Linked DNA regions of Homo sapiens. The protein of the gene in region 2 interacts with the protein of the main gene of each other region in a biochemical or structural test. Each region holds a gene or a part of one and is shown on either strand. Other genes may lie near its edges. The genes, in order: PDK4, PDHA1, PDK1 and PDP1.

Evidence for each region.
Region 1: of the proteins of PDHA1 (region 2) and PDK4, one has a biochemical effect on the other in vitro, tested with the Homo sapiens proteins (one study listed by IntAct).
Region 3: the proteins of PDHA1 (region 2) and PDK1 form a complex in vitro, tested with the Homo sapiens proteins (2 studies listed by BioGRID, with this or other methods).
Region 4: the proteins of PDHA1 (region 2) and PDP1 form a complex in vitro, tested with the Homo sapiens proteins (one study listed by BioGRID).

What each region holds. Positions count from the first base shown.
Region 1 is NC_000007.14:95,593,445-95,601,359, reverse strand, and holds the start of PDK4 (pyruvate dehydrogenase kinase, isozyme 4), read left to right. Parts: upstream 1-4,843; 5' UTR 4,844-5,066; coding exon 5,067-5,196; intron 5,197-6,195; coding exon 6,196-6,337; intron 6,338-7,589; coding exon 7,590-7,661; intron 7,662-7,915. UniProt on the Homo sapiens protein: Kinase that plays a key role in regulation of glucose and fatty acid metabolism and homeostasis via phosphorylation of the pyruvate dehydrogenase subunits PDHA1 and PDHA2.
Region 2 is NC_000023.11:19,339,551-19,347,059, forward strand, and holds the start of PDHA1 (pyruvate dehydrogenase E1 component subunit alpha, somatic form, mitochondrial isoform 1 precursor), read left to right. Parts: upstream 1-4,376; 5' UTR 4,377-4,487; coding exon 4,488-4,544; intron 4,545-6,959; coding exon of another isoform or gene 6,960-7,073; intron 7,074-7,509. UniProt on the Homo sapiens protein: The pyruvate dehydrogenase complex catalyzes the overall conversion of pyruvate to acetyl-CoA and CO(2), and thereby links the glycolytic pathway to the tricarboxylic cycle.
Region 3 is NC_000002.12:172,565,992-172,573,177, forward strand, and holds part of PDK1 ([Pyruvate dehydrogenase (acetyl-transferring)] kinase isozyme 1, mitochondrial isoform 2 precursor), read left to right. Parts: intron 1-864; coding exon 865-942; intron 943-1,208; coding exon of another isoform or gene 1,209-1,225; exon of another isoform or gene 1,226-2,031; intron 2,032-2,749; coding exon 2,750-2,826; intron 2,827-4,734; coding exon 4,735-4,833; intron 4,834-7,186. UniProt on the Homo sapiens protein: Kinase that plays a key role in regulation of glucose and fatty acid metabolism and homeostasis via phosphorylation of the pyruvate dehydrogenase subunits PDHA1 and PDHA2.
Region 4 is NC_000008.11:93,912,408-93,920,005, forward strand, and holds the start of PDP1 (pyruvate dehyrogenase phosphatase catalytic subunit 1), read left to right. Parts: upstream 1-4,515; 5' UTR 4,516-4,672; exon of another isoform or gene 4,673-4,811; intron 4,812-4,928; exon of another isoform or gene 4,929-5,176; coding exon of another isoform or gene 5,177-5,259; intron 5,260-5,503; coding exon of another isoform or gene 5,504-5,538; intron 5,539-6,688; exon of another isoform or gene 6,689-6,726; coding exon of another isoform or gene 6,727-6,736; intron 6,737-7,598. UniProt on the Homo sapiens protein: Mitochondrial enzyme that catalyzes the dephosphorylation and concomitant reactivation of the alpha subunit of the E1 component of the pyruvate dehydrogenase complex (PDC), thereby stimulating the conversion of pyruvate into acetyl-CoA.

The DNA.
Region 1 (7,915 bases), on a different chromosome or scaffold from region 2:
TTTGACAAAGCCTAGAGATACTACCAACAGATGGCTCTTTTCGTTCCCTCTCCTCACTGCTCCAATGCCTTTCTTCTTTGTCTGCCTATGAATGTCTGCTCCACCTTTATAAGTCAGATGACCTATGACTTCCTCCAAGGAAGCCTCCCCTGGCTGCTGCTTGTCCCCCCAGTACACATACCATATATGCCACATTCTATTTTTTAGATTATTTTCATGTCTGTCTCCCGTCTTTGAAGACAAACTATGCCTTCTTCATCTTTATGTCCTCAGCATTAATCACAGTGCCTAGTACATAGTAGGTGTTCAATAAAGTTTAGTAGAATTATTTAACTGCTAACAAATTTAAACAGAAAACACATTGCTCCCTGATTTAAAGGCTTCAACAGTTCCCTGCTGCTTACTCTAGAAATCTCATAGACCTCATACTAGCATTTCAGGCTTTCATGAGATAACTGAATCTTCCTTTCCTTCTGCCCTTAGGGTACTCTAGACAGCAGCCAGGTGAAACTAGTCATTATTTCTCCAATGTATCTCTAGCTCCTACATCTGTGCTTTTACTCAGTCTTGGACATTTTTCCCCACTGTCTACCAATTATTTGCCAAAATCTTGCTCATCTTTCTACAGCCATCCCAAATGCCAATTCTAGTAGCATTTCCTGATCCCCAACATAGCTCTTCCTCCAAACACCCCAGATCACCCTTAACATATCCACTGTCTGGCACCATCACTACTACCACCAATACCACCACAACCAGCATTGCCCATGGCGTGAACCTTTCTTATGGGCTGCTTTTTAAATGCATTTAATTATAGCATTTTGCCCTGAGGATTAAATGAAAATCTAATAAATTAAAAATAATTAGTTATTGTTTTCCATCATCAGCTAATAATCTGAGGTGCATGAGAGCAGACGCTTTTGCACCCATCAGGGCACCCAGTCCAGCTCCTGGCACCTAGTATCCTCTAGGTTAACAGTAACTATAAGAAACATCAGAGACCAAATTGTGGGTTAGATCCTGCTTTTCCCAGTAGCTTCACCAATATGCTTTCACCAGTATTCCCTCTCATCCCCAATAGAAGCTCATTCCATTTCTTTTAATTGTCGTTTACTCAAGAAGACCTTCCTTGACCACCAAATCTAAGGTAGTTCCAGCCTATTACACTCTTCACAATCATTTTCTTCTTAGCCCTTGTCCTATCTTAATGTATAGGCTTATTGGCCATATGCTTTTGTAATGCCAATTTCCCCCACAAGTCTATCATCTCCATGAGGGAATAGATCATGACCGAATGGTTCCCTACTGAAACAGCCATCTCTTAAATCATCATTTGTCTATTACGTATTCTGTAGATATGTTCTCCAAGTCTGCTGTTCATATTTTAACTTTAATATTCTATGGTCAAGTCTGTTAATCTTTCCATCATGTCTTCAGAGTTCCTGTTACGGGCATTTTAAATTGCTTCCTTGGAATACGATCCTGAGGTGGAAAAATTGTATAGACTTCCCTTTAAGGGATCTGATGGATTTTATCAAATTGGCCATCCCCCACCCTCTGGAAAAAGTGTGACTTGCATTCTCAAAGTTCTACCCGTGGCCTTTTGTTATTAGATTTTTTCCAGGCAAGCTGGACAGAACTTATTTAATGCTAGGTAAGGTGCCACTGAAAATTTTAGGAACCAGGTATCTCAAGCAGGGATGTTCAGCATTGTATGCAAGGGAACAGCTTTGATTACTTCTTCTATTCCTTAGCATTAGTCATTTAATAGTCTTCTCATGGTTTACTTTTACTCAAATGAATGCATGGATTTGTCATATCCATTGCCCCCAAATAATATTTTTGCTTCACCTCTGTCCCAACTGGATCACCTCCAAGATTTGTGTTCAACCTGAGAAGAGAAGTGCCACTCTTTTCCCAGGTCACTCTCTAATCATGGTAATACATAGCATCTTAGCCAACTGGGTAAACAACTTGACCTGACCTTTCTAGGCCAGCTATCATGAATGCTGCCAATTATAATAACAGTTCCCATCATACAGAAATGACACAGAAGAATGCAATGCACTGTGAGAGTAACTTCATAAATATTATTAGAAGGGATGACATAGAGACAAAATTTTGGCAACCTCAGTTCACATTTAGCCCTAGGTCATCTCTGTGAACATCATATGATTTCACCTGATCTTTAATCAGCCCACAGCACATAGAATAGTAGTGCTGGGTAAGCTAGGCTGGGCAATCAATGTACTTAGGGACATGGGACTTTCCTAAATTAGACTTGCCTGTAATGCATAATTTCCATTGCCTTTCCTCTGAAAATCAGAGTATAATTCTTTGTAATATATATTTTTGCTTATTCCAGGTTCCATATACAGTGAGAAAAGCAAATGCATGCTTTACTTTTACTTATGTTCTTAAGACCCAATCTAAGAAAAAGAAGGGATTTTTACCTTAAATTTACTTGCTTCATCAAAGAGAGTCTTATTCAGTTTTTTGGCTACTTGAACACATTTCGTTGCTGCATCAAGCTATGCAAATATTTAATAAAGGATTCCAAGTACAAAAATATAAATAATAGTGGCATCAAAACCTGTCTACAAGTGGAGATGCAATTTGGAACTTGCCCATATTCCCACAGCTGTTTCAGCTTAAGATAAGTGCTTGAGCTGTTGTGTTTTTGGTTTTTTTGTTTTTCTGTCCCACTCAAGTGCAACTGCTAGAGTCTATACTTGGATCATCCTTGAATATTCTCTAAGAACCCAGGCCCCATCCTCTTCATTGGAAGATCATAAATATTGCATGTCTTCACATAGCTGTTTCTCAAAGGTCTGAAAAAAATATTTGGTCATAACAGGAAGTCTCAAATTCTCGACCATCTATAGGTAATGTATAGACAATGGGAGAAATAGTAGGAGAGCTAATATGGTGCCTCCAAACAGGCCACATAACTGACACAGGGTTTGCCAGGACTGTTTCAGATCCCTCATAATGGTGTTGATTTTAGAGAAGCAAAATTGATACCTATTAGACATCCAAATGGAGAAACCAAATAGGCAATTGAATAGGAGAATCTGGCTCTTGGAAGAAAGTTTGTGCTAGAGATAGAATTGGAAATCTGTCCTGTGATTTAATGCAGTCTCCTAGACGAAGAGGGCAAAGGATGACAGCAGAGCCTAGGATCACTCATGACTTTCAGAGTTGCCCGTTCTGCTTATAAATGCAGGGCAGGCTGGGCGCAATGGCTCACTCCTGTAATCCCAGCACTATGGGAGACCGAGGTGGGTGGATCACTTGAGGTCAGGAGTTTGAGACCAGCCTGGCCAACATGGAGAAACCCCATCTTCACCAAAAATAGAAAAAATTAGCTGAGTGTGGTGGCGTGTGCCTGTGATCCCAGCTACTCAGAAGACTGAGGCAGCAGAATCGCTTGAACCTGGGAGGCCGAGGTTGCAGTGAGCCGAGATGGCACCACTGCACTCCAGCCTGGGAGACAGTGTGACTCTGTCTCAATAAATAAAGTAATTAATTAATTAATTAAAATAAAATAAACGCAGGGGGAGGAGGCCAAAAAGGTTTTTTATAACAAACTATCATTTTTAACACCTCATAAATTCCCATTCTATTACATTTGTAACCAACTCTCTTACTCCCAACTTTCCCAAACACGGTGGCTTCATTCCCTAGTCCTTTTAGAGTGTCGGGAGAGGAAAAGGAGGTTAGTATGACAGGGTAATGTGTCTCAACCACTGTCATTAATTTAATAAATATTGAGTAGTGAAAAAGTAGGAATCACAAAGCTGCATCAGACAGGGTCCCTACCCTGATCTCTTTCAGGAAAGGGGGGAGTCAGAGAGGGATAATATAAAAACATAAATAGCTATAGAATAGTACCATGAAAGACCAAGGCCTTATTTGGAAGAAGTGAGGAGAAGTAATCAAGGAAGACCTTTTGCAGCAGACAGCTTGTGCCAGACATTTGAGGGTAGAATGGAATGTCTTAGGTAAAGATTTGGAGTAAGGACATTTCGTACAGGGCAGAGTGAACAAATTCTCTGATCACCGCAAAAGGTAAGGCAAACTGACAAATTGATCCCTTTTTAATTTTGTTTTTAATTAACAGAACTAAACCTAACGGAAAGAATGTGTTGCCGGAGAAGAACGAATTGATGGCCTTTTATTACCACAGGAAAAAGTAAATGTATCTGGGCAGCCCCTCAAGTCTCAGCAAAAGGAACGTACAGTTCCTGCCATGTGCCGGTCTCTTCTGAAGAAAAGGGGGCGGTGGGGGTGGGGGCGCAGGTCTTTAGGTTGTTTATTCCTTTCTCTCTGTCCAGTGGCAGAGAAGCCCATACTTTTGAACGCAGCTTGTTGGCTACTGTAAAAGCCCTGCTCTGAGCAAGGACCAATGAGCACGCGGAGTCCAAACTCTTGGAAACAGTTTGTGGCCAGGAGTACTTGACATTGAGACAGCCTCCGAGTTGTAAACAAGGGCGAGCCTGGGCGGGACCCCAGCCCACGCGACTCGGAGCCCCGTCCCAAGAGGCTAATCTTAAGCCCACGTTGCCCCAGATACCTGTTTCTGCTTCCTCTTCCCTGTTCTTCCCACCCTTTTTCCGTCACAGCCGCGGGCACCGGTGCCAGGGCACTCCGTGGTCACCGTGCCAGGCCATTCTGTGATGACCGCGGCTGGAGGGGCGGAGCCCATAGTTCTTTCTCTGATCTGATTGGCGCGACCTGGAGTTCAGGACGCGTTTCCAAGTTCCAGTGACTCCTCCTGTTTGGGACTCGGGGGGAGAGTGCGGGGAGACAAATAAAACCTCGGGCGGCGGCGGCTGGTGGGAAGACTTGAACTTGAATCTCGAACCACTGCATCTCCGACTCTGCCCAGACTCTTCACTCCGCGGCACCCTCAAACCCCAGCCCAGGCCGGGGCGCACAAGCCAGCCAGCGCACCTGCAGTCCTCGCCCGGACGCGCCGCGCCCCCTCGGAACCAGGCTCTGCTCCGAGCAGCCTTCGCCCCTCAAGCCAGCCACAGTCCCCGCCAGGCCGGGTGGGCGTCAAGATGAAGGCGGCCCGCTTCGTGCTGCGCAGCGCTGGCTCGCTCAACGGCGCCGGCCTGGTGCCCCGAGAGGTGGAGCATTTCTCGCGCTACAGCCCGTCCCCGCTGTCCATGAAGCAGCTACTGGACTTTGGTGAGAGGGGACACAGGGCCCAAGCTGGGTCCTAGGGTTGGGGAACTGCCTTAACTTTCAGCCTTGGTAGAGGGAGGGCTAGGCTCAAGCTAAAACAACTGGGGTTCACTTTGCTGCTGAGCCCTGGAGCCTCGACGCCAGCACACCTTTCCTTTTCCTAGATTTGGTTACTTTCTGACAGGGGTGCCTCCAGGTCAAGGCCACCTGCAAGCCTGCCGACGCTGGATGGTTTGACTTCATCTGCACACTCTTCTTTCTGACCCGCTCTTCCAGTCAAAATACTTTTTGCTTTCGGTCACCGTTTAACAATGGACTGGAAACTTTATCCTCTCCTTCACAGCATAGTACTGCTTGGAGAAGTTTCTGAATAGTATTAAATAGCCTCAAATTAACAGATTTTATTCCTTAGCCACCTGGCATCCTTCCACAGGGTACATCTCTCTGCATTCCTGACAGATTTCTTTGTCTCTTTATCATTATAGTTTTCCATATATTTGCATTGTTGCTGAAAATATTTACACATTTGTTGCAGTAATCTTATAAGGAAGATTTCAAGGGTTTAAATGTGATATCACTACTCTGGAAATATCACAGCTCCCCCTCCAGCCTCTTATCCCCCAACTCCAATTCCATGTCCCCACTCATTAAAGGATGTTGTGTTGTTGACATTGTGGTGTGACCGAATCCTGCAGTCTTTTATAAATTCTAAGAACTGTGGGATATTCTTACTTCTTGGAAGTGAATCCTCTTCAAAAAGAGAAGACAATAATTCTCCTATATCTGTCACTTTTTAAAAGAAAGAAGGAAAGACGAAAGGACGAAGGGAATTAGTCAATTAAGGAGACAATCGCCCCTGAATTATCGATTAACAGTAACCCAACTGAGAGTGAAATATAATTTTATAATATATGTGTGTTCAATATTTGATAGTTAATGCTATTTAGATATATCATTTAGACACACTTTTTCTCAAAACTAAATTGATTTCATTTATTATAGGTTCAGAAAATGCATGTGAAAGAACTTCTTTTGCATTTTTGCGACAAGAATTGCCTGTGAGACTCGCCAACATTCTGAAGGAAATTGATATCCTCCCGACCCAATTAGTAAATACCTCTTCAGTGCAATTGGTTAAAAGCTGGTAAGTGGTGAACCATATTGAAGTCTCTAGTTTTGAAACAGTTACCCGGGTATGAATTCTTATACTATGTTAACATCATAATTGGAAAACAGGTGATCTGAATGGTAACTACTTTTGAAAGATGTAAGAATTTTAAAATTAATTTAGGGTAAGTTATCATTAGAGAAGTTATAAAACTATAAACAGACATTTTTACCCTGAAAAAGTAGATTACTTTATAATAAAATTTTGAGTTCTAGGAAAAATTTGAAAAAAATTGGCATGCAATTTTAATTTTCAATTATAGAAGAGCACTTTCAATAATAAAAGAGTTTGATATTGCAAAAGAAATCCTATGCCTAGAAACCAATTCACATGACTGCTATTTAGGGAAGGCCTAATCTTTGTAACTTACAAAGTGATTGACAGAGTGGGCTCTGGGTTCAAATCCTGCCTCTGTCACTTCTAGTTGTGGAATCCTTGGCAAGTGTCTTAAACTCTTTATGCCATTGAGTTATTATTCCCATCTGTTATTAAAGAGATTAAAGTATATGCCTCAGAGGGATGTTTGAGTGTAATGAAATGAGATAATCCATAAAAAAGAAAAAAAAAACCACTTAGGACAGCACTTGGCACACAGCCAGCAGTCAGTAAGTGTCAGTTGTTGTCATCTCATTTTATAAATGAAGATACTGATGCTTAGAGAAGGTAGGTAACCCAAAACAGCAAATTTTTGGGTCACAGAAGCAGGATATGCACAGGTAGCAGACATGCATGAGACCCTTATCTTAATCCACTGACTGCACAGCCTTTTGTTCATTGATTCAAGAAATACATGTATTATATACCTATAAGACAATTACAATCTAAAACATATATTCAATCTGTAGTATTTACTATTGCAGTCAAGACTTACACTCTTCTATGAATGAATGTAGTAGAAAAAAAATAAAAAGCTTTAAAAAAAGTTGTTTCTAAGTATTATTGCTAGAAGAAATGAAAATATTTGCCAAACAAAACAGTCAGGAAACTGAATACTGACCTGAAATAGTTAAAGAAACATTTTGCGTTAAATTTTAAGTTTGAAAGTCAAGGATTAAAAGTTATAGCATTTTAAATTTATATTATTTTCCAAATGTTCTGGAGGAAAGTTTTAAGTTTGAACATAATGCTTACTTTCTCTTTTCAAATTATTTGAAAAAGCTATTCTATTTTCAGCCATTTGTATCTGACTATTAATTTTAAAACTTAAAGCATACCTGTTTCTTTACAGGTATATACAGAGCCTGATGGATTTGGTGGAATTCCATGAGAAAAGCCCAGATGACCAGAAAGCATTATCAGAGTAAGCTCTATGCATTAGAATAAGTGTTTAAAACTTTGGTTCTTTCCAGATAGATTCCTAAGATATTTTTAGACCTAAATTAAAGGAATTCAGCTCTGAATAATAAATCACTACCCTCTTACACATGACAAGTTTTGGCTTGTTGGTTTTTCAGAAGCGAAGAAATATGGCATTGAAAATGATGCTGAGTGTGAAGAAATGTAGAGGACTCATTTTTGATCCCCCAGGGAGACCTATTTTTACTATAAATTTAC
Region 2 (7,509 bases):
CAAGATGTATGTATGTGTGTGTGTGTGTGTGTGTGTGTGTATCTTGAGGGGGGGAAATAATCATGAGTTTATACTGATATTTCCAATTCAAATTCAGGACCTCTTGGCTTTGACCTGTTGAATTTTACATTTGTGTCTCTGTTTTTTATACTGAAAATCTTGGTTCCCAATGGCATTAACATAATTATATATTTACTTTATCAGTGTGGGTATGTGCAGTCTTAAATAATAACACCTGACAAATGAGAACAATTTAAGATTTTTTTCTGTAGAGATGGGGTCTCCCTATGTTGCCTAGGCTGGTCTCAAACTCCCGGGTTCAAATGATCCTCCCACCTCAGCCTCCCAAAGTGCTAGGATTACAGGTGTGAGCCTCGCCTTAAGATTTTTTTTTCCAGTTCCTTTTGTCTTTAGGCTATACCCCACCAGGCATATGCAGTCACATTGCTGTGGTGTGAAATAACTTGAAATCATTCTCTGCGGGGTTATGCTGACAACTTGGTATGTTATTAAATTGGTTTGTTATATTTCATTTCCATTGTTATGTCATTGTGTTTTATGGTCGTGTAAAAACATTTATATGGTTCCAAAGTTAAAATGACCCCTAGCCATAATCCTTTCACCAGCTGCTGCTTAGTACCTCAAAGACATTTGCAAAGATTTGTTGACTTTTATGACACATGTATATGATTGTCCTACTCTAATTCATCTGCTGGGGGATGGGTGTTTCTTACTGGAAAACCGGAGACATGTCAAGGAGCATGATTTGCCTTAAAGCTCAGCTTGATCGAATACTTGTAGGGTGATTCGCTAACGAAAGGTAAAAAGGCATATTTCAGGGTCTCTAATCAAAATTGCCCTGCTTCACCCAGATACGTTTTTTTTGTTTTGTTTTTTAGAGAGATGGGGTCTCGCCCTGTCACCCAGGCCGCCATGCAGCGATGCCGCCATAGCTTACTGCAGCCTCAAACTCCTAGGCTCAAGCAATCCTCCCTCGTCAGCATCCCTAGTAGCTGGGACTACAGGCATGCAACACCATACCAGACTAATTATTTTATTTTTTGTACAGACGAGTATCACTTTGTGGCCCAGGCTGGCCTCAAACTCCTGGCCTCAAGTGATCCTCCTGCCTTGGTCTCCCAAAGTGCTGGGATTACAATTTCCCCCAAGATTAACGAGCCCTCCTTTCTTAAGACTTTCTCTTCCCGCCTTTTGCAAATCTTTCTTTCTCTCCGGCCTCCTCTCCTGATACAAGAGTCTTTTGTGAATGTTCTAGCGCGTTACTATAGCCTATAGTTATTATAGCCTATAGTTAATGACTATAACATTACTATAACGTTACTATAGCCTATAGTTAATGACTATTAACCACAATCATCACCTGTCACCACTTGACACAGCATCTCACAGTGTCCCTCACCTTCAAAGTTGCTTCCAACTCTGCTTTCAAATATCTGAAAACAGCTGGGCGCGGTGGCTCACACCTGTAATCCCAGCACTTTGGGAGGCCAAGGTGGGCAGATCACCTGAGGTCAGGAGTTTGAGACCAGCCTGGCCAACATGGTGAAACCCCGTCTCTACTAAAAAAATACAAAATTAGTCGGGCATGGTGGTGCTCGCCCGTTTTCCCAGCTACTCGGGAGGCTGAATGAGGAGTATCACTTGAACCTGGGAGTCAGATGTTGCAGTGAGCCAAGATGTCACCACTGTACTCCATCCTGGGCAACAGAGTGAGAATCTGTCTCAAAAAAAAAAAAAAAAAAAAGAGGCCGGGCGCAGTGTCTCATGCCTATAATCCCAGCACTTTGGGAGGCTGAGACGGGCGGATCACGAGGTCAGGAGATCAAGACCATACTGTCTAACATGGTGAAACCCTGTCTCTACGAAAAATACAAAAAAAATTAACCGGGCGTGGTGGCGGGCACCTGTAGTCCCAGCTACTCGGGAGGCTGAGGCAGGAGAATGGCGTGAACCTGGGAGGCGGAGCTTGCAGTGAGTTGAAATTGCACCACTACACTCCAGCCTGGGCGACAGAGCGAGACTCTGTCTCAAAAAAATAAATAAATAAAATATATATATATACACGTATGTGTGTATATATATGTATATATATGAAGAACAAGAAGTGCAGAGAAAATATCCTAGTCATTGAAAAATTGGTTACTTTGTTTCTGCACTGCAAAGTTACTTTAAACTTTGTAATGAATCTAGTGGAGAGATCATTTGAGATGAGGCAAATGTCCTGTTTCTCATCATACATTTACCCACTAATTTTAGCCTGTATTGATGATAATTCTCACCTGCAACAGTTACTGTGGTCTTTGCCAAATGGTGATTTTCTTTTTCTATTTTCATCATTCCTTCTATATTAATTAATTGGAATTCTACTGTAAGGAAAAGTTGTTCCTTCTAACCCATTGATTTGTTCAATCATGTATTTAAGTAGGACCTATATTTTACTTGTTCCTTGCTATATCTTCAGTGTGTAGTACAGTGTCTGACACAAAATCGGTGCTCAATAATAGGTGTTGGATGAATGAGCAAATGAATGAATGAATTCATATTCATATGGCCTACAGAGTTCCCGTACATGCACAACCAATATCACCACCCCGTGGAGATGACTCCCAAATTAATATTTTTAGCAAATGTTCCAGACTTACAACTCCAACTTCCCGGGGGACATCTTCAGATAGCTGTGCCACTGCCACCACCAGGTCAACATGTCCCAAACCATTCAGACCAGCTTTTTCTCCTGAGCTGGACATCTGGCCTCCAACCTTTTCATTCTCTTTTACCTTTCATATTCTATCAGCAGCAGCAGCTGCTGAAATCATACCATGCAAGTTTCTCACGTCCATCTCTGCCTTTTAATGGCGCCCTCTCACTCCTTTAAGAAGTTTTCTTCCACTGCAACACGATCTCTCAGTCCAGAGTCTGGCCCAGTGCCCAAATTATTTCTCTAGCTATGCTGAGAGCTGGTCATGCTTTGAACTTCTGCTTTGAATACTTTCAGTGACACTGGGAGAGAATTATCTCATTGGACCATTGTCATTGTTAGAAAATTCATTGTTATGCTGAAATGAAATGATTTTATTCACACACACACACACACACACACAAAATAGCTCTTCCTCCTGGAACATGACTGGCCTGAAAATGTGTGAAGACATATCCAATCCTCTCTGGTTTTACTGTTCATCCAATTTTCTGTTCTCCTCCTGGCAGGAGGATTATATTTCACCTTGTGGAACTCAGACATGGTCGGGTAACTAGCTCTGGTCCGTGAAAATTGAGAGGAAGTGACATGTGTCACTTCTGGGCAGAAGCTTTGAGAGCCGGTTTAAATGATCCCTTTTCTCTTCATCCATGAGACAAGCTAAGTTCCAGAGAGAGGGTGCCACGCTGTGAGGGACCTGTGTTACGAGTACGATGGCTCGCGTCACTTCAAATTCTTGAAATCACTGAAATTTGGAGGTCAGTTGTTACATCATAACCCAGCCAATTCTAGTTAGCCTGTTTTCTTCCTAACTTCTTTAATCGTTCTTCATAAGTCACAATCGCAGCCCCTCACCGTTCTGACCACTGTCCCCTGGATTCCACTCAGTTTACTCATTATCCCCCTTAAAATGTGGAGCCCAAATCTGAACCCGGAACCCCAGGTGCAATCCCACTAGGACACAACACAATGGGTTCCTGAGCCCTTTGATCCTCTGAATAGAGCCCCTTGTTGCTTTGGTGTTTTGTCTCTGTGTGTGCTTTTATCATCGGCTGAGCCACGCTGTTAACTCGCAGTGAGCCTGTGAACCAATAACTAGAGAAAAAAGATTTTTCCCATTGTCCTCTCGACATATATTGGGAAACAAATTTTTTGATCCGCGTTCAAGTAGACAGGGCAGAACTGTCCAACTGCTACGTGATCTTTTAAAGACAAAGTTAGTGGCAGACCATTTACAGAAACCAGATGTTCTGTCTTTTGGCTCTGAGCATGCTGCTAATCTTCATCATCTAGTGTACTGAACGAGATGTACTGAACGAGGGCTGCAGAGCTGCAGCACCGGCAGGAGTAGGCGCTCGGTAGGACGGGGCCTGCACAACCTCCCCGGTAGTCAGCAGAGCGGAATCTAGGAAGGCTCCTTTCCCGCGGCGCCCTGGAGGCGGGGGCCCCACCTTCCCACGCAGGCGCTATCAAGCCCCGCCTCCTCACCCGCCCGCGGCGTGGCGTCGGAAAGAGCCCTCAGCCCCTCCCTCTCTGGCGCTGATACCCAATGGGCAGCCTCAGGCCTTTAGCGGGGGCGGGGCACCCCCTGGACGCCGTTCTGGTTGGCCCGCGGCCCGGCGCAGCGCATGACGTTATTACGACTCTGTCACGCCGCGGTGCGACTGAGGCGTGGCGTCTGCTGGGGCACCTGAAGGAGACTTGGGGGCACCCGCGTCGTGCCTCCTGGGTTGTGAGGAGTCGCCGCTGCCGCCACTGCCTGTGCTTCATGAGGAAGATGCTCGCCGCCGTCTCCCGCGTGCTGTCTGGCGCTTCTCAGAAGCCGGTGAGACCTCCCGGGCGGGCCGGGATGGGGCGCGAGTGGGGCTGAGGCGGGGCCGGAGGGCAGGGCGGGCCAGGCCGGGCCACCCAGAGCGGGGTGGAAGGCGCCAGGGGAGCCGGGGAGCCTTTACTTCGCCTCCGCGCCCTGCATTCCGTTCCTGGCCTCGGGAGAAGCGGCACGGACCGGGATCACGCCAAGGTCCGTGTGAACTTCCCCCTTCTCGACACCCACCTCCCGCCCCCGGGCCCAGCTGTGCGCCAGGCGAAGTCGGTGTGCTCAAGAGGTGCCTGTTGGGTTACAGGACACGGAAAGGGTGGCCTCGGCCTCCTTCGAGTCTCCAATTGACCCCACTCATTTCGGATCTTCTAACTTAATTTCTCTTGACCGAGAGGCTTTGTAATAGCGTAGAATCTGGAGACAGGGTGGCTTCGTTCAAACAGCACCCTCACCATTGACTAGCCCTGTGACCTTGAGCAAGTTTTTAAACGTCCCGGGGACCCGGTTTCCTAAAATGTTTGCTCGAAGTGGAGTTAATCTCTAAATGGAGATAAGAGTTATCTCTGAAATGTTATCAGTTAACTCTAAAATGGAGATAATAAGAGTCCCCACCTCTTGGGGTTGTCTTGAGGATTCAACGAGTGACACGTGTGGAAACGATTCCAAATAGCACCTGGCACATAATCGATAACATGTGTGTTGAATAGTGTTATTTATTGAGTCTCCAGTTCGGTATACATTTCTTGAACACCTGTGCTCAGTTCTGAGGCGGGTTCACAGAAGGTCAGCCTCTTCAGAAACAAACTTCCTCCTCTTCCCTCTCCCTCAACATCTGAGCTTTTCTTGGCAGTGAGTTCAGGAGCGCCGAAGCAGAACTCAGAGGACGCTGCCCTCCCCTCCCCTTACCTACACATTCTTAGGGTACAAGTAGCTAAAGCAAAGAGCAACGATGCTTGAGGGGTGGGGGGTAGAGTTTAGCACTATTTCATGGCCTCAGCATTTAGAGGTGCCTAACACCTGAGCTAGCATTCTGACCCCCCTAGGCACAGTGAGGTCGTGTTAATTGGTGTAACTGCAGGCCTCGGGATTCTGGTATTTCCCCCAGGACTTGATACCGCTCTACTTAGTACAGGCAGAGATTGTCAAAAGGTAAGAGGTATGCCCCTCTAGGAATCCTGTTGCCTAAAATAATGACAAAACTGCCGGGTGCGGTGGCTCAGGCCTGTAATCCCAGCATTTTGGGAGGCTGAGGCAGGTGGATCACCTGAGGTCAGAAGTTCGAGATCAGCCTGGCCAACATGGTGAAACCCCGTCTCTACTAAAAATACAAAATTAGCCGGTCGTGGTGGCGGGCTCCTGTAATCCCAGCTACTCGGGAGGCTGAGGCGGGAGAATAGCCTGAACCCGGGAGGCGGAGTTTGCAGTGAGCGGAGATCGTGCCATTGCACTACGGCCTGGGCGACAAGAGCAAGACTCCGTATTTTAAAAAAAAAAAAAAAAAAAAAAAAAAAAAAGCGTTCCCTTTAGGGATATCTGTGGGTAGAGGGCTGTACCGGTAGTTACGGGCTCAGAAACATCCTTCCTTTAGGCACCTGATGTAGGTTTTCTTCTTCTTCTGCAAGTCAGGTTCATTGTTTCCTGTATCAGTTTGCAGGGTCCCCCCCCCCCCGCCACCTTACAGTAGGAAGAAAATTGAGTTCCAGATATGAAGTCACCTTTGAAAGTGCCCAGGTATCTTTCCACTTGGTGGTGTAAACTCTTCAGATAATTAGAAGTTTTCTGTGTCACTCAACTTGTCATGGACTAATTAGGAACCATTCCTGAAGCTTTTAAGGATAGAACTAAAAGTTTCACTTTTATTTTTTTAAAGGGTGGAATAATAAACTAACGTGTTGACTCTTTGTATTTTGTAATTCTTCATACTTATGGATGTCTTTTTACTTAACTATAAGTAACAAAATAGATCAACGTTTTAGTTTTTTATATTATACATGTAAAAAGACATTTTGCATATAAGCCTTTCACAAAAATCTTGACAGTAAACAATAAGCAGTGGCTCACCCAAATTAGGCAGACTTACTGCACTAGACTCCTACCATCTGTGTGATACTCCATGAAGGGAGGGAGAAGGGGAGGGAGAAGGGTAGGCAGCTGGTCTGATGGCTGTGACACAAGATAATCCCCTTAACCTCCCAAGACGCTGTGTGTTTTTTCCTTTTTTATTCTCCCTGGTTTACTTTCGTTTTGTTTGAGACAGGGTCTCTGTGTCACCCAGGCTGGAGTGCAGTAGCAGGACAGCTCACTGCAGCCTTAGCCTGCTGGGCTCAAGCGATCCTCCTGCCTTAGCCTCCTGAGTAGCTGGGAACACAGGCATGTGCCACCACCACACCCAGCCAATTAAAAAAATTTTTTTTTTACTAGAGACATGGTCTTGCTACGTTGCCCAGTCTGGTCTCCATCTCCAGGCTCAAGCAGTCCTCCCACCTCGGCCTCCCAAAGTGCTGGGATTACTCTCACTCTCTTAAAACCAGGCAGGTAGGGAGATTTATCTCAGGCTTAAAGATTGCCATTGTCTCATCAAAGAGTGTTTGGTGTGAAACTTTGAAATGAATATCAAGATTGTGTTTTTATTTTTGAATAAGGTTTATAGTTTTCATAGTTCTTATTTCATGGAAGAAGATTGAATGCATTTAAAATGTTATTTTATTGTTTGCATTTCTGTATGGCTCCTTTTGTGAGATCTTTACTAGCAATGTTTTGGCTTTATAAGTGGTAGGTAAGAGTTTTAATTTACACTGTTAGAATCTGGAATTTTTGAAACGTTTTTCCTCTTTCACATGAATGGTTCCTATGTATTTAGGAAGTTAAAGTTTTACTTTTTTTTAATTAATTTTTTTTTTTAGGCTGGAATGCAGTGGCACAGTCATAGCTCACTGTAGCCTCAGGTGTGTGCCACCATACCTGACTAATT
Region 3 (7,186 bases), on a different chromosome or scaffold from region 2:
TAGTATTTTAGAGGTGAGATTCCTAGAATTAAAAACATTTAAATGCATATAAAATTTTGGTATCTCCAAAAAGGTTTCAAACAATGGATAAGAGTGTTTCCTAACCAACTCTTAAGTTTTGTTACATAGATAGCAATTATTTTCTCCAGCCTGTTATTTTTCTTTTTTACATTGTTGGTGTCTTTTTAGCATATAGACTTTTACATTTTTTTTGTAGTTATATTTGTCATTCATTGTTTATGGCTATTCAGCTTTGTCATGTCACACTTAGACTTTCCCTGGGCCAGGCACAGTGGCTCATGCCTATAATCCCAGCACTTTGGAAGGCTGAAGCGGGTGGATCACCTGAGGTCAGGAGTTCGAGACCAGCCTGGCCAACATGGTGAAACCCCCTCTGTACTGAAAATACAAAAATTAGCTGGGCGTGGTGACCCATGCCTACGTAGTCCCAGCTACTTGGGAGGCTGAGGCAGGAGAATCGCTTGAACCAGGGAGGTGGAGGCTGCAGTGAGCCGAGATAGCGCCACTGCACTCCAGCCTGGTTGATCGAGACTCCGTCTCAAAGGAAAAAAAAAAAGGAAAGGCTTTCCCTGGTTGGGGGCAGTGGTTCATGCCTGTAATCCTAGCACCAAGGCAGGAGGATGGCTTGAGCCTGGGAGTTGGAGACAAACCTGAGCAATATAGGGAGACCATGTCTCTACCAAAAAAAAAAAAAAAAAAAGCAGACTTTCACCAAACTATCAAAGTATATTTTCTTCTGTAGAGAGTTCAAGACTTTGATTTGTCAATACCATTGCCATCTTAATGCGTGAAAGAGAAGTATATTTATTAAATCCTTTTTTGTTTTGTTTTGATTCACACTAGATGGCTATGAAAATGCTAGGCGTCTGTGTGATTTGTATTATATTAACTCTCCCGAACTAGAACTTGAAGAACTAAATGGTAAGCCTGATGTTGTCTTTTTCTCAATAATTAGTGCTTTGATTACTTGATAAGGGATAAGAATTTAAATGTTTTAATGGAAGATGACTTTTTATCAACTTCGTTGGATATGAAGGCTAAAGGATAGTAATCATGTAAAAAATATATCTATAAACATATGTAATTTAGTCAGATTCTTTATGAAAAGATTTGGCTTTTTGTATCACATTTTCTTTATTTTTAATTGATAACTTTGATTCTTTGCTTATTTTTTATTTTCTGTTTAGTCATAGAAAGAAAATGATACCAAGAAAGTTACATTTGACTTTTACATGCACTTCACTAATGTAAGACTTACCCTTTTTCTACTTCCTGAGTTGTAAATAATTTTCTGTTGTTGAGGACATAGACTGGGGTTATAAAAGAGGAAAGAAAGATGCTCATCTATTTGAGAATCTGTTTGTCTCTGATGGTTTTCTTTTTACCCTGATTAGTGCCTTTTGGACAAAAAGGGTTTAGATGCCTTGAAGAGGGATTGATGAGTCTCTTTTTCCTGAAAGCATGGTAGTTTGACAGAAAAAAGCATTTCCTAAGATGACACTTTAAGAAGGTGTGGGAAGAATAAAACAAAATAGGCTTTTACTAAGCTGTATTCTGGACCTTAGAGTGAGAGAGCAGTGAAGTTATGCAATTGAAAATAGCATTGCTTGGTGATTTTCTAAAGCCATATTAACTCTTTTGAGCCATGATGGTAGCATAGCATTTGGTAAATAACAATCACAGTGTACAAGTAAGTGATAGTTTGCAAACCTGAACTGCTGTGAGCAATTTCCAGATGTCCCATTTTTGTTCCCAAGGGGGAGTTTATTCAGAGGAAGGTCTGATTTATTGGTTGAATTAGAATTCTAAGATATCATGAGTCTTAATCATTTGTTCTACTAAATGTCTGTTTTATACACACCCCTATCACCACCCCCAGTGGGGCTCCTATTAAGTGTTTAAATGTAGAATTAATTACTGTCTCGAGAAATTGATGCTAGCTCATATTTTTTATTCAGCTTTATATCCATCGAAATGCCTGAAATAAAACAATATTCCACCCAGGTGAAACATTTTGAAAATGGCTTAAAGAATGTATGGGCTGGGCGCAGTGGCTCACATCTATAATCCCAGCACTTTGGGAGGCCGAGGCGGGTGGCTCACAAGGTCAGGAGTTCGAGACAAGCCTGGCCAATATGGTGAAACCCGTCTCTACTAAAAGAAAAATCAGCCAGGCGTGGTGGTTGGCGCCTGTAATCCCAGCTACTCGGGAGGCTGAGGCAGGAGAATTGCTTGAACCTGGGAAGTGGAGGTTGCAGTGAGCCAAGATCGCGCCACTGCACTCCAGTCTGGGCAACAGAGCAAGACTCCGTCTCAAAAAAAAAAAAAAAAAAAAAAAGAAGAAGAAGAATGTATGCATGCATGTGAATTGGACTGTGGAATTTAAAGATTTTAACACTTCTCTATTTGGAAAGTAAAATTCCTACCCGAAAGTTAAGCGATCTTAAAAAAGACTTTACCATCCTAGAGAAAAATGGGCGCATGGGTTGGTTCGATTGTGATGCAAGATTGTGAGAAGTGACCACAGGACTCTTGTCATCATCAGTTGTAAATATTTGTGGGTATGGGTTCAAACACTAATACATTGAAGAAATGGTGTGGCAGTTCTCCCCCAGGTAATACTGTCCTCCGTAGTTAATGTTTTCTTTTCATCACTACACAGTTTATTCTTAAAAATGCTTTAAGCACATCTCTCTGTACTTTCATATTTTTCTCTTCTGCTCTGTAGCAAAATCACCAGGACAGCCAATACAAGTGGTTTATGTACCATCCCATCTCTATCACATGGTGTTTGAACTTTTCAAGGTTTGTAAAATAGTATTACATAACCTTTACCAGTACTTTTCTGAGGTTAGGAATCTGCTCTGAAAGCCAAATATTCCACTAGGTTCTCCTATTAAGAAGTGCCATTTCACATCAGTATCATATCACATTGCTGGAGATCAGCTTTTTATCAACACAGGGAGACATCTCCATGTAGTGGTGAGCTCAGACTATGGAGTCAGAAAGACCTGGGTTTGAATCCCAATTATGGCTCTTAATATGTGTGTGACCTTGGGCAAGTCACTCAACCTCTCTGAGCCTCAGTTTCCTTTTCTGTAAAACAAGAATACTGTCCAGGATTGTTTATGACTATTGGGAATAACATACTAAGTGTCCAGTACAGTGGCAACGTATTACATATAGGTGCTCAATAGAGTTATCTTTATGTTTTTATAAAACAATATTTAGAAGAGTGATTCTCAACTTGCTACCCTCAAAGGACCAGAATTCTTTTTTTGGTCTGGCTTTTCTTGGGAGGGGGAGGTCATTTATATTGACTTACAGGGTTTCTGCTGTAATCTTTGCTCTTTACAACAAAATTTGAAAACAAATTATGCTACTAATATTGAGAGTATCTTTTTTCCCCGCCAATAATACTTGCTGGTTGACAAGAAAATGGGTGAGGAGTGAGGGGCACAGGTCCTGGTGGGTGAAAATGATTGCCCTCTATCAGAAGCTTGTAGTCTCTCTTCAGTTGTGTTTCATCAGCCAGCAGCAAACTAGAGGAAAGAGGGGGTGGCTTTCAATCTGATAATGTAAAGGAAAAGTGCACTGAAACACAGAAAAACTGACCGAATATCTTAGAACAGCAGCAGAATGTTCTTTCTTCCAAGACAGCAAAAATGTATTTAATACCTTACAAAATCTTTTTTAAAATATTTATTTTATTTTTTGTAGAGTTGAGGTCTCACTCTGTTACCCAGGCTGTCCTTGAACTCCTGGCCTCAAGCAGTCCTGCCCCAGAGTGTTGGGATTACAGGCATAAACCACTGCACCTAGCCCTAAAATCTTTTTATCCAAGTAGTTAAACAAGTAGTGATGGGCACTTCAAGCATTAACACGAATTTTTTCCTTGAAATTCCAGTGGCATAAAGATCTTGTGCCCTATGATTGAGGCACTCCGTATTATATTGTACATAATGTCAGTAATAATGGCTTTCACCTGGAACCTAATCTTAACCTGCCTTTGGTGGAAATGATGGAATCTCCTCCATAAGAGGACTCAATCGCAATTGCTGTGCCAGGGCCACACACTCTTACTTCCAAATTCGGATGCCTTTTTAGTTACATCTAGTTTATATCATTTTCTACTGCAATGCTGAATGTCATGATATTGTTTAAGGCTTCTGATATGTTGGCACTGTGTACCCTATTTCCTTTAGAAATTAGTCAAAGCAGCTTTACAATGACAATACCCTTAATTTCAAACTAGAGATAAAGGGATTCATTGCTCCATCAAATACGACCATCGCTGTTACTACTATATGAAAAAAATTGCTTTCCTTTAAAGAAATTTATGACAGTTTTTTAAATAGTTCTAAAAATATAGCTGAAACTACATTTTCAAAAATGTTTTGCCCATCATTTACTAAAATTATAAAAGTGTTTGAACAGAGTTTTCTGCTTTAATGTAACTAGTTAAAAGTGTTTTGAAGTCTGACTTTGGAAAATAAGCAAAATTTAGTTGGAGTCTTTAGGTCAGAATATCCTTCAAATCCCCCCCAAATTGACTCCATTAAAAAAAAAACTTTAAATGTGGTTATAAGAATTGTGATTCTTTGGCATATTTCCATCAAATTTTAAAACTTCAAATAGTGCATATGTACTTGAAAATTACACTTTCTCTTTTCTAAAAAGCTGTATTTTTAATACAACCCTAATGTATTTCAGAATGCAATGAGAGCCACTATGGAACACCATGCCAACAGAGGTGTTTACCCCCCTATTCAAGTTCATGTCACGCTGGGTAATGAGGATTTGACTGTGAAGGTAAATGTGTTTAATGGTTTGTTTTCTTTTTTTTTTTTTTGTAATTGATGAACAGACATGCAAAGGTAACCATACGCATAATTTCTAAAAGACATAATCTACTCTCAGGGGAAAAGAATCTTGTCTGTAATAGATAATAAGCACATTGCTTCATTGAGCTGGTGGATTATAGTTATCCCTTGAGTCTTTTCTATGCAGGTCCCCCGTCGAGGTGATTCAAGTTAAAATAAATCTTGGAGACAGACAATTTATCATTAATATCTCTTTGATAAGTAAGATCTAAAATATTTGGGTAGTTGCAGTATTATGGAGATAGTATTTTATATATAATTTAAAAAATTTTAAAACAGTGCTTTCTAATCTACTGGTTTCATTTGATTCTCATGACGTAGGTAATTTTATCCTCACTTTTACAGGTGTGGAGACTAAGACACAGTGATTAGCTCAGGATCACACAGGGCAGAAATGCTATGGGACATGATATCCAGTCTTCTGTCCCCAGTGCTAGGCCTTTTCTATTACATTGTTCAGGTGGCCCAGTTTCTTCTTTTACATTTTATTAAAAATTGTTTTCTGTCACCCAGGCTGGAGTGCAGTGGTGTGATCATCACTCACTGTGACCTTGAACTCCTGGGCTCAAGCAATCCTCCTCCCATGGCTTCCAGAGTAACTGGGACTGCAGGCTGCAGGCATGCAAGCCTGGCTAATTAAAAGAATTTTTTGGTGGGTAGAGACTAGGTCTCACTTTGTTGCCCAGGCTGATCTCAAAACACCTGGCCTCAAGTGATCCTCCCACCTTGGCCTCCCAAAGCACTAGTATTACAGGTGTGAGCCACTGTGCATGGCTCCAGTTTAAGAGTATGATAGTGTTTTTCTTTTTTAATAATCATTTAAAAATTTATATTAAAGTAATAAATGCAGAGACTATAAAAATTCAAATGTGTCAGTTCCTGGCCCTTTGTAGGCCTCATTACTCAGAGATTCTTAGTCTTTCTTTACTTTTTTTTTTTTTTTTTTTTTTTTTTGAGATGGAGTCTTGCTCTGTTGCCCCAGGGTGGAATGCGGTAGTGTGATCTCGCCCACTGCAACCTCTGCCTCCTGAGTTCAAGTGATTCACCTGCCTCAGCCTCCCGAGTAGCTGGGATAACAGGCACCCGCCACCACGCCTAGCTAATTTTTTGTATTTTAGTAGAGACAGGGTTTCACCATATTGGCCAGGCTGGTCTCGAACTCGACCTCGTGTTATCCGCCTGCCTCGGCCTCCCGAAGTGCTGGGATTACAGGCATGAGCTACTGCACCTGGCCTAATGTTTACATTTTAAACAGTAAATATTACCTTTCTGTTATAGTAGTTGAGGAGTTAGCTCTCTTTAATAGAGCACCTGCTCCCCTCCCCTCCCCTAGCCCAAGGGCCAGTTTCCCTATACTATTATCCCAATATTTAAGTTTGTATATGAAATTCGAAGCTGAGAATAATCATCCTGCAAAATTTTGAAGGCATCCATTGTTCCTTTTTTAAAAAAGGTACAATTCAGTGGAATTCATAAGGTTATTCAAGTATTGCCGCTGTCTCATTTTAGAACATTTTCATCAGTCCTAAGAAAAAACCCAAGTACTCCGTCAGGCACAGCAGCTCATGCCTGTAATCCCAGCACTTTGGGAGGCCAAGTTGGGCAGATTGCCTGAGGTAAGGCGTTTAAGACCAGCCTGGCCAACATGGTGAAACCCCATCTCTACAAAAAATACAAAAAATTAGCTGGGTGTGGTGGCAGGCGCCTGTAATCCCAGCTATTCAGGAGGCTGAGGCACGAGAATCGCTTGAACCCAGCAGCAGAGGGTGCGGTGAGCCAAGATTGCACCACTGCACTCCAGCCTGGGTGACAGATTGAGACTCCATCTGAAAAAAAGAAAAAAAGGAAAATACGCAGTACCTATGAAGTCACTTCCCGTTTTTCTCTCTTCTAGCCCTTGGCAACCACTGATCTATTTTCTGTTTGTGTATTTCTCTTTCTGGGCATTTTATATAAATTTAATCATGCAGTATGTGGTCTTTTGTTACTGACTTCTTTCACTTAGTATAATGTTATAGTATGCATTTGTACTTCATTCCTTTTTATGACCAAATGATATTCTGTTATATGGATATAACACCTTTGGGTTATCCATTCATCAGTTGATAGACATTTGGTTTGTTTCTATTTTTTGGTTATTATAAATAATATGGCTATGAATGTTTGTGTACAAATTATTGTGTGAACATGTGTTTCAGTTATCTTATGTATATACCTAGGAATTGAATTGCTGAATCATAGGAAACTCTGTTTAACTTGAGAAACTGCCAAACTGTTTTCCA
Region 4 (7,598 bases), on a different chromosome or scaffold from region 2:
TGTAGGAAGTGCTCTAGACACACCCCAATGTCTCAGTTCCCCGGAAGCCTGTCCTCCACCTCATACCCTCTGTGCTTTGGGGAATCCACCTACAGAATTATACTGAATAAAAAATTAATCTTGCCAAATTGCCTGATGGCCAGATACTAACACCAACACCTACCTCCCCTTTCATCTCTCCCCTCTTGCCCATACATGTCACCTTTAGTATTTGAAGATAGCCTAACTAACAGGAATTTTTGAAGTATGTGCCAATCTCAGGTCCACAGGTATGCAATACTCTTGGTAAAGCACTTGAATTCTATCATTACGCAACCCCAGACACCTACTTTTTGTATTCTCTGTCATGTTCAATTAGTACACAGAAACTTACTGCCTGCCAGCCAAGAGCCTTTGGTCTCTCATTTTGTAAGAGAATAAAGCTTTTCCCCCCTTGAACATTCTATTGTCTCATGAATTCTGATGAGAATGGATTCCTTTCCAAATATAAAATCAGACAAATGTGAAAGCATCTAGAACAGTCTCTGGTCCAAAGGAGATGAACCACAGTACGTGTTGTTTCTTTTGTATAGATGATTCGTCAATCTCACTGCTAACTCCAAACAACTTAATTTCAAAGAAGGAACTCCCGACACTGACATGGTAATAAAACAGGTAGCCATTCTTTAGTTACTTGGCAATTTCTTGCTGATTTCCTAGCCAAGACCTGTAGGGAAACAGGTGCTAGAGGAGTATGGTAAACCAGCCTCTTTCCCCTGTGACTGCTGATTTTGGCAAAGGCCACAGTAAATCAGTAACCATCAGGGTGAGGGCATCTCAGACCCACATGCAGGTTTATTTTAAGCTTCTTGGCTGGCACCACTGAGACTGCTGGATCATCTCCATGTTGTCAAAGCTAACCTCCAATACCCCTAAGGGTCTTATCACCTGCCCCCAAGAACATCAGGCCAATCTGATCAAGCATTGCTCATTTTCAAATCCATCCTAGGGCAAATGGATGACTAAATGTTAAGGTTCATATTCAGGAAATGTCATTGCATTTTTGTTTATCACAGAAAGCATTTGTGTAAACAGGTGATTTTGCACATTGCTTTCTTAGTACCATACTATTTTTGAAGCCCCTTCCTCTCTCCTTCCCTACCTTCTCGACAACGTTCCTGGGTTGTTTCAGTGCTGCTTTCCAACACTTTCCAATGTTGAAGTATCAACAAGTGCTCTGGTGGCTAAAACAGTCTGGGGTCAACGCAGTAAACCCAAGGACCTGTTCTGGCCCTGGCCAGTTGGCCATGTGATAACAAACAGCACTTTTGAAGCAAGCCCAGTGGGTGGCTAAATGGAGCTCCATCTAGAAACAGGAACAAAGCCAGGCCAGAGGAGAATCAAGGTTGAGATACTAAAGAATCTCCTCCAGTTGTACCAGCAGTTGGTACCTCTGCAGAAGGGTAGTTTATTTATAATATACCTCTCACTGAACCATACAACTTTACAACCAGAGGACAAAACTTATACCTGTAAATGAGATTATTTCAAAGCTATCACTTTAGGAAGGCTTTATTCTGATTTCAAAAACACCTTGGCATTCAATACTTATGTCAAAATTCTTTTGACTATATTTAGTGGTGGCAAATACCAGTTTTTTTGAGAGTGGGTGTTATTTTTAGAAATATCCAGGTCATTCAGAACTAAGAAGAATAAGATGGGAATCAATACTATTCTGGTATAAAACCAAAGTGTTGGTTATAGTAAAACAAGTTGGAGTTTCCTGTGCAGATCTGAAAACAATTTGAAAAGGGAGTTTTAAAAGTGCTCTGAATAATGGCAATGTCAGTGTGGAATAAGGGTTGCTACTAAGGTAACAGCTTTGAAGAGGTCATTTGATATGGATGTTGGACTCTGTTTTTTTTTTGGAGATGGAGTCTCACTCTGTTGCCCAGGCTGGAGTGCAGTGCTGCAATCTCAGCTCACTGCAACCTCCACCTCCCAGATTCAAGCAATTCTCCTGCCTCAGCCTCCCAAGTAGCTGGGATTACAGATGCCTACCACCACACCCGGCTAATTTTTTGTATTTTTAGTAGAGATAGGGTTTCACCATGTTGGCCAGGCTGGTCTCAAACTCCTGTCCTCAAGCAATCCACCTGTCTTGGCCTCCCAAAGTGCTGGGATTACAGGTGTGAGCCACCGCACCTGGCCTGGATGTTGGATTCTTACTACTCTATTTCACAACCATTAAAAAAAAAAGCTTTTTGTTTTTTTTGAGACGGGAACTTGCTTACTCGCCTAGGCTGGAGTGCAGTGATGCATCACTGCTTACAGCAGCCTCAGCTTCCTGGGATCAGGCAAGCCTCCTGAGTAGCAGAGACTATAGGCAGGCGCCACCACACCCAGCTAATTGCTTTTTAGATTCTTTGTAGAGATGAGGTCTATGTTGCTCAGGCTGGTCTCTGGGCTCAAGCAATTCTTCCGCCCCGGCCTCCCAAAGTGCTGGGATTACAGGCAGGAGCCCACCAAGCCTGGCCAGGAAAAAGTTGATAAGACAACAGAGAAGTCTAGTATGTACTTCATTTCTGGGTCATAAAGCAGAAACTCTTAAAATTCCACTCACAGCTTCAGTTAAGTGGGTCTCTATGTCCACAAAGTAAGGGTTAAGAGGCAGAGATCCTCTATATAAATGAATTTAAACTGATATTCTAAGGTTCAAAGATTCTCCATTCTATTAATAACTTATTAGTACCTAACAATAGAATATAATGCACTTGGGGGCCTGGGTCTCCTACTTGCTAGGAGTTCTTAATCTAAAACACTGACCTGGACATGTCGATAATATCAAGAATAGCTAACACTTATATAACACTACATGCTATGTACTTTCTTAGCAAGCTATATATGTCAACTCTCTTAATACAGCCCTGCTATTACTTTTTACATTTTTATCTTATATGTGAGAGAATGAGGCATGCAGAGTTGCCCATGACCACACAGAAAGCTGCAGAGCTGGGAATGGAACCCAGCCAGCTTGGCTCCAGCTGCACTCTTAATCACTAGGCTACACCATCCTATGCATCTATGAAGAAGAAACCAGATACTTAAATTAAATGACAGGAAGAGTAGTGGAGAATATTTGCAATTTATGGGAAGCCCATTTGAGAAGCAAAAAGGAGAGGATGAAGGGAGGCAGATGGACCTGTAAAAACTGGGATGAAGGCCAGACAGACTAGCCACAAAAGTTCCATGGGTAACCTGGGGATGGGCAAAAACAGTCTCCTCTAGTTTATTTAGAGAACAGAGAATACAGCAACTTGAAAGATCCAGGAGTTATAAAGGACCAGTTTGGGTATATAACGTTTTTTATTACATAAAAAGAAATTCACTCCACATCATTTTGTGAACCTGACTGGCTAGTAAGAAGTTATGTGTAATAAATCAAAGTCAACTTATTGGTGAACACTAGGGAAGATAAGTGCAATGCTCTATCTGCCACTGCCAAGGAAGCTTTCAGAAGCCACTATCCCATAAAAGGGATGTATGGATGTAAGTCACTGAAGAGCCCTCGAAGATATCTTGTTTTACCACAGACAATACCAATGCCACCTTAAGTCTAATCTCATCTGAGGTGGAAACAATCTCATGGAACAGAAATGGGACTTAGAGCAGGGAATGACTTGGATGAAAGTTTTCTGACTCCAAGTCCAGTGTTCTCTCCTTGTAACCATTCAGGGCAACGGAAACAATACTGATTTCAAAACTCCTCAGAGAACGTGAGCACACATCTACGCTACAGAGATAATTCCCTCATCACAACTCCCTCTTGCTGCTGTCTACACCTGCTTCCTCTCCCTGGGGCGATAGAAAACATGATGGGCGTTAATGCTCCTAAAATCTGCAACGTATCAAACGAACGAAGCAACAGCTACTCTCGAGGTTCTTTGCTACGCCTTGTACCGCAGGCTGGGGTGAGCCGCAGGGAGTTGAGGTTCCCGTGAGGCTGGGAGCCGCTCCCGCAGCCTACCCTGGGAAGCCCGCACCCAACCGCGAGGCGCAGGGGAGGCTTGGCCGCTGGGCCGGCCACCCACACCACCGCATCCCCGCAGAGGTGCCAGAGATTCTAGGAAGCCTGCACGACAGGGGAGCAGCCCGTTCCTCGGGCCCCATGCACGCGAAGACATTGGAGCCGGCCCAGGCGCCTCCCCTCTCCCGACCCCGCAGCCTGCTCAGCCAACACCGCCGAGCTCCACAGACCACCGCTCCCTAGCGCCGCGCAGCCACACCTTCCACTCGCTGGGGGCGGGGGGGGGGGGGTCACGTGAGGCGGGCCCGGGGAACCAATGGGCGGCTCGCGCCGAATGGAAGGGATTGTCTGACCCCCGTGACGTCACAAAGCTGGCGGGGAGCGCGCTCCTCTTCCGCCCCCGCCCCACCCCCGGCCGCAGCCCTCTCCGCCTCCCCTCCCACTCGTCACTGCGCAGCCAATCGGCAGGCGGGAAGCACTCCGGCCCGAACGTGCGGGCGGGGCAGGGTGGCGGCCCCGCACGGTAGGGGAGCAGAGTGGGCAGGCCGGGGGTGAGGGCTCGCGCTCCGGGAGCTGCACGGGGCTGCGTGGAAAGAGCGCCGAGCGGTGGCGTCGTTGTCGCCCCCTCCTCGTCGGGAAGAATCGTTTGGTCTCCTGCCGTGCCCGGTTCGTATTCCCTACTCCCTGCCACGAGCCGCCCCGTCCGGGATCCTCCACCCGTCCAAAGTTGTGAGGGGGCGCCGGGCGTGCTCGCGGATCGGCGGCCGCGGGCGTGCGGAGGGCTGGACGAGCCCTGGAGCGCCAGGTGCGCGCCGGGCGTCCGGGCTGTGGGGCGGGCGTGGCGGCGCTGGGGGCCGTCGGGGGGCTGGGGGCGGGGGCGGGGGCGCCGTGCAGCCCTAGCGTCTTCCGGCCCCTGCGCTCCAGCTGTCAGCACGAAGGGCGCCGCGGGGCCGGCGGCAGAGTGAGCTCCAGGGAGGCTGTAGGGCTGCGGCACTGCCTGAGGGTCTCCCTGACGCACCCCGGGTCAGGGCTGGCCCCGCTGGCAGCCTGACACCGGCCGGCCCCTGTTCGTCTGGACTGAAACGGGCACCCCTGGGGCGGGGCCGGGCCGGGCAGGGCGGGGCGGGCAGCGGGCGGGGCTGCAGTCCATGGGCTTCGCGCCCCGGCTGGATGGAGGGGCTGGCCCTCGGGGCGCACCCCTGCTCGCGCCTGGGCCCCGCTGCCTTGGGCTGTGGCTTTGCCTCCCCGGCGGGGTGGGTTGGTTTGGTTGGCTTCCTTGTTCTCTCCACCCCTTTATCCCTCCTCCATCCTCTTCCCCCCCACCTCCCAGCCCATTCACCGGGCTGGAGCGAGACCTCGCCCCTCCTCCGCTCCCGCCTCCCCGCCGCCGCCTCCTCTAATGAGCATCTCTGCCTTGCTTTCAATGGGCCGGTGCTGCTGTCGCTGCTGCTGCCCGCGCGGGTTGTGGATGTTGTCGGCTCCGTGTTGTGATGACAGGAGAATGTGTGTGTGTCCCGGGCCCAGACGAATTGGTAGGTATTCACTTAACTACCTGCGTTGGGTACCCAGGAAGGATGGTGACAGATTTTTGTGTATGGATGGTTTTAGATGAATCAGCGTGGTATTAAGGGATGAGATAGATTGGAAAAAGGGACAAACGCGTCTTGGATTGAGATAGCTTTGATGTCTTTGTGAGTGCAGTTTTTCAGGTAGCGACAAAGGAAACTAATCAAAAAAATACTGGCGTGTGGTGCTTCGTATCTTTCTTCATTTATGTAAAAAGATAGCAGGAGCTGTGAAATGGCTAGGCATTTCCAGAAAAATGTTGAAAAATCGCGGATGGTCTTTATGTAGAGTGTTTAATGCAATCGGATTACATAAACTGGGGTTCCGACACATTAAATGATTAGCATAGCTTTTCTTTTTCATTTACATCAGAAGCTTTGCAAAGCTAAAGGGCTCTGGAGTCGGTGCCTTAATAGCATTTGCTAATTAATTTGGTCCGTGGGTCTATTGATGGAGTGGAAAAAATGTCTTGGCACAGGCTCTGCTAAGCACATCAGTAAGAATGGACGGCTCTCTTTCCTGTTTCTGGTTGCAGTGCATCTTTCTTTATTAGTCATTGGCAAAATCAGCCCAATCTGCCTGGGATGAAGATGCTACATACAACGTGGCTGAGTCTAGATCATGGAATAGGAAATTTTCCGTGAAAATTGTGATCAAGAATAACTTGCAAATTTGACACTGCTCTGTTTTACCAACAGTTGTACCTGGATGCTGTTCTTATTGCCTGATCAAGAGCCTTCTACACTAATTTAACAAGCTTGTCAGCAAAAGTTATGATGTAGAGTGTTTTCTTGTTGTTGAATCAGTGGATAATCTGAAGGATATTAAGAGTTTTTCATTGCTTACTTATTTATGAAAGCATTTGAAAGTACTTTGACTCCCAAGGGTATCTGATCTGATGGAGAGAATGTATCACTTGTACCGATGCGGATAGAACGCTCATTAATTACAGCACAGTTTTCATAAATTCCAACTTCCCTAGGAATTTTGTCTTTTGAAGGCATGTTGGAAGTTGGGGCATTAGGATATAATCTCAGTCCATGTACTAAGCCTCTGCATAACTGAAAGATAGAGTCAATAAAATTCACTCTCTCATTTTTTGTTTTTAATCTCAAGAATTTTTGCCTTGAAGGAAAAATGTAGTGGAGAATTTGATGTTTGAACGTAAGTATTGTTAAAAGCACCTGCTGTGTCAATCATTGCTTTTTGTCACTAGATTTCATTCATTTTGCAGTCAATTACAAAAGTAGAAAAGATGTCATACCAAGCCGGGTGCAGTGGCTCATGCCTGTAATCCCAGCACTTTGGGAGGCTGAGGCGGGTGGATGGCCTGAGGTCAGGAGTTCGAGACCAACCTGACCAACATGGTGAAACCCCATCTCTACTGAAAATACAGAATTAGCCGGGCAGGAGAATCGCTTGAACCAGGGAGGCGGAGGTTGCGATGAGCTGAGATCACGCCATTGCACTTCAGCCTGGGCAACAAGAGCAAAATTCCTCCCCCCGCTGCCCTCCCTCCCCCCCCCCGGCAAAAAAATGTCGAAGCAAAGGAATTTAAGGAAAGTGCAGGTTTCCAGGACTTGTTATTCCTTAATTAAACAATCAAACCCTGTTATGCATCTATCAACCCTCCCTCCCCCCCACACAAATAGTATTTTGAGTCAGTTTACGTTCCATACAGGCACATTTTCATTGTTTTTTTCTGTAAGATTCTTAAGTTTTAAAGAAAGAGCAAATGCAGTCATAAAATTATGAAGAAAAATTCATTAAGATTACATTAGTTTACATTTTTAATGATAGAAAACCTTTATTCAAAGCACAAAATGAGTTGATATGCTTTCTGCACGCAAACCTAAAAAGAGATATGGTTTAAGTATGGAAGCCACTGTCATGTGGCCCAACATTTGAGCACATCTTCTGGCTCAGTCATGTACACTTAACCTCTGGATGACTTTCAGGTATTCAGTTTGAATTTCTTTTATTTAAATGGTTACTCCTGATGGATTCCCGTTTTTCTGGAATTTCT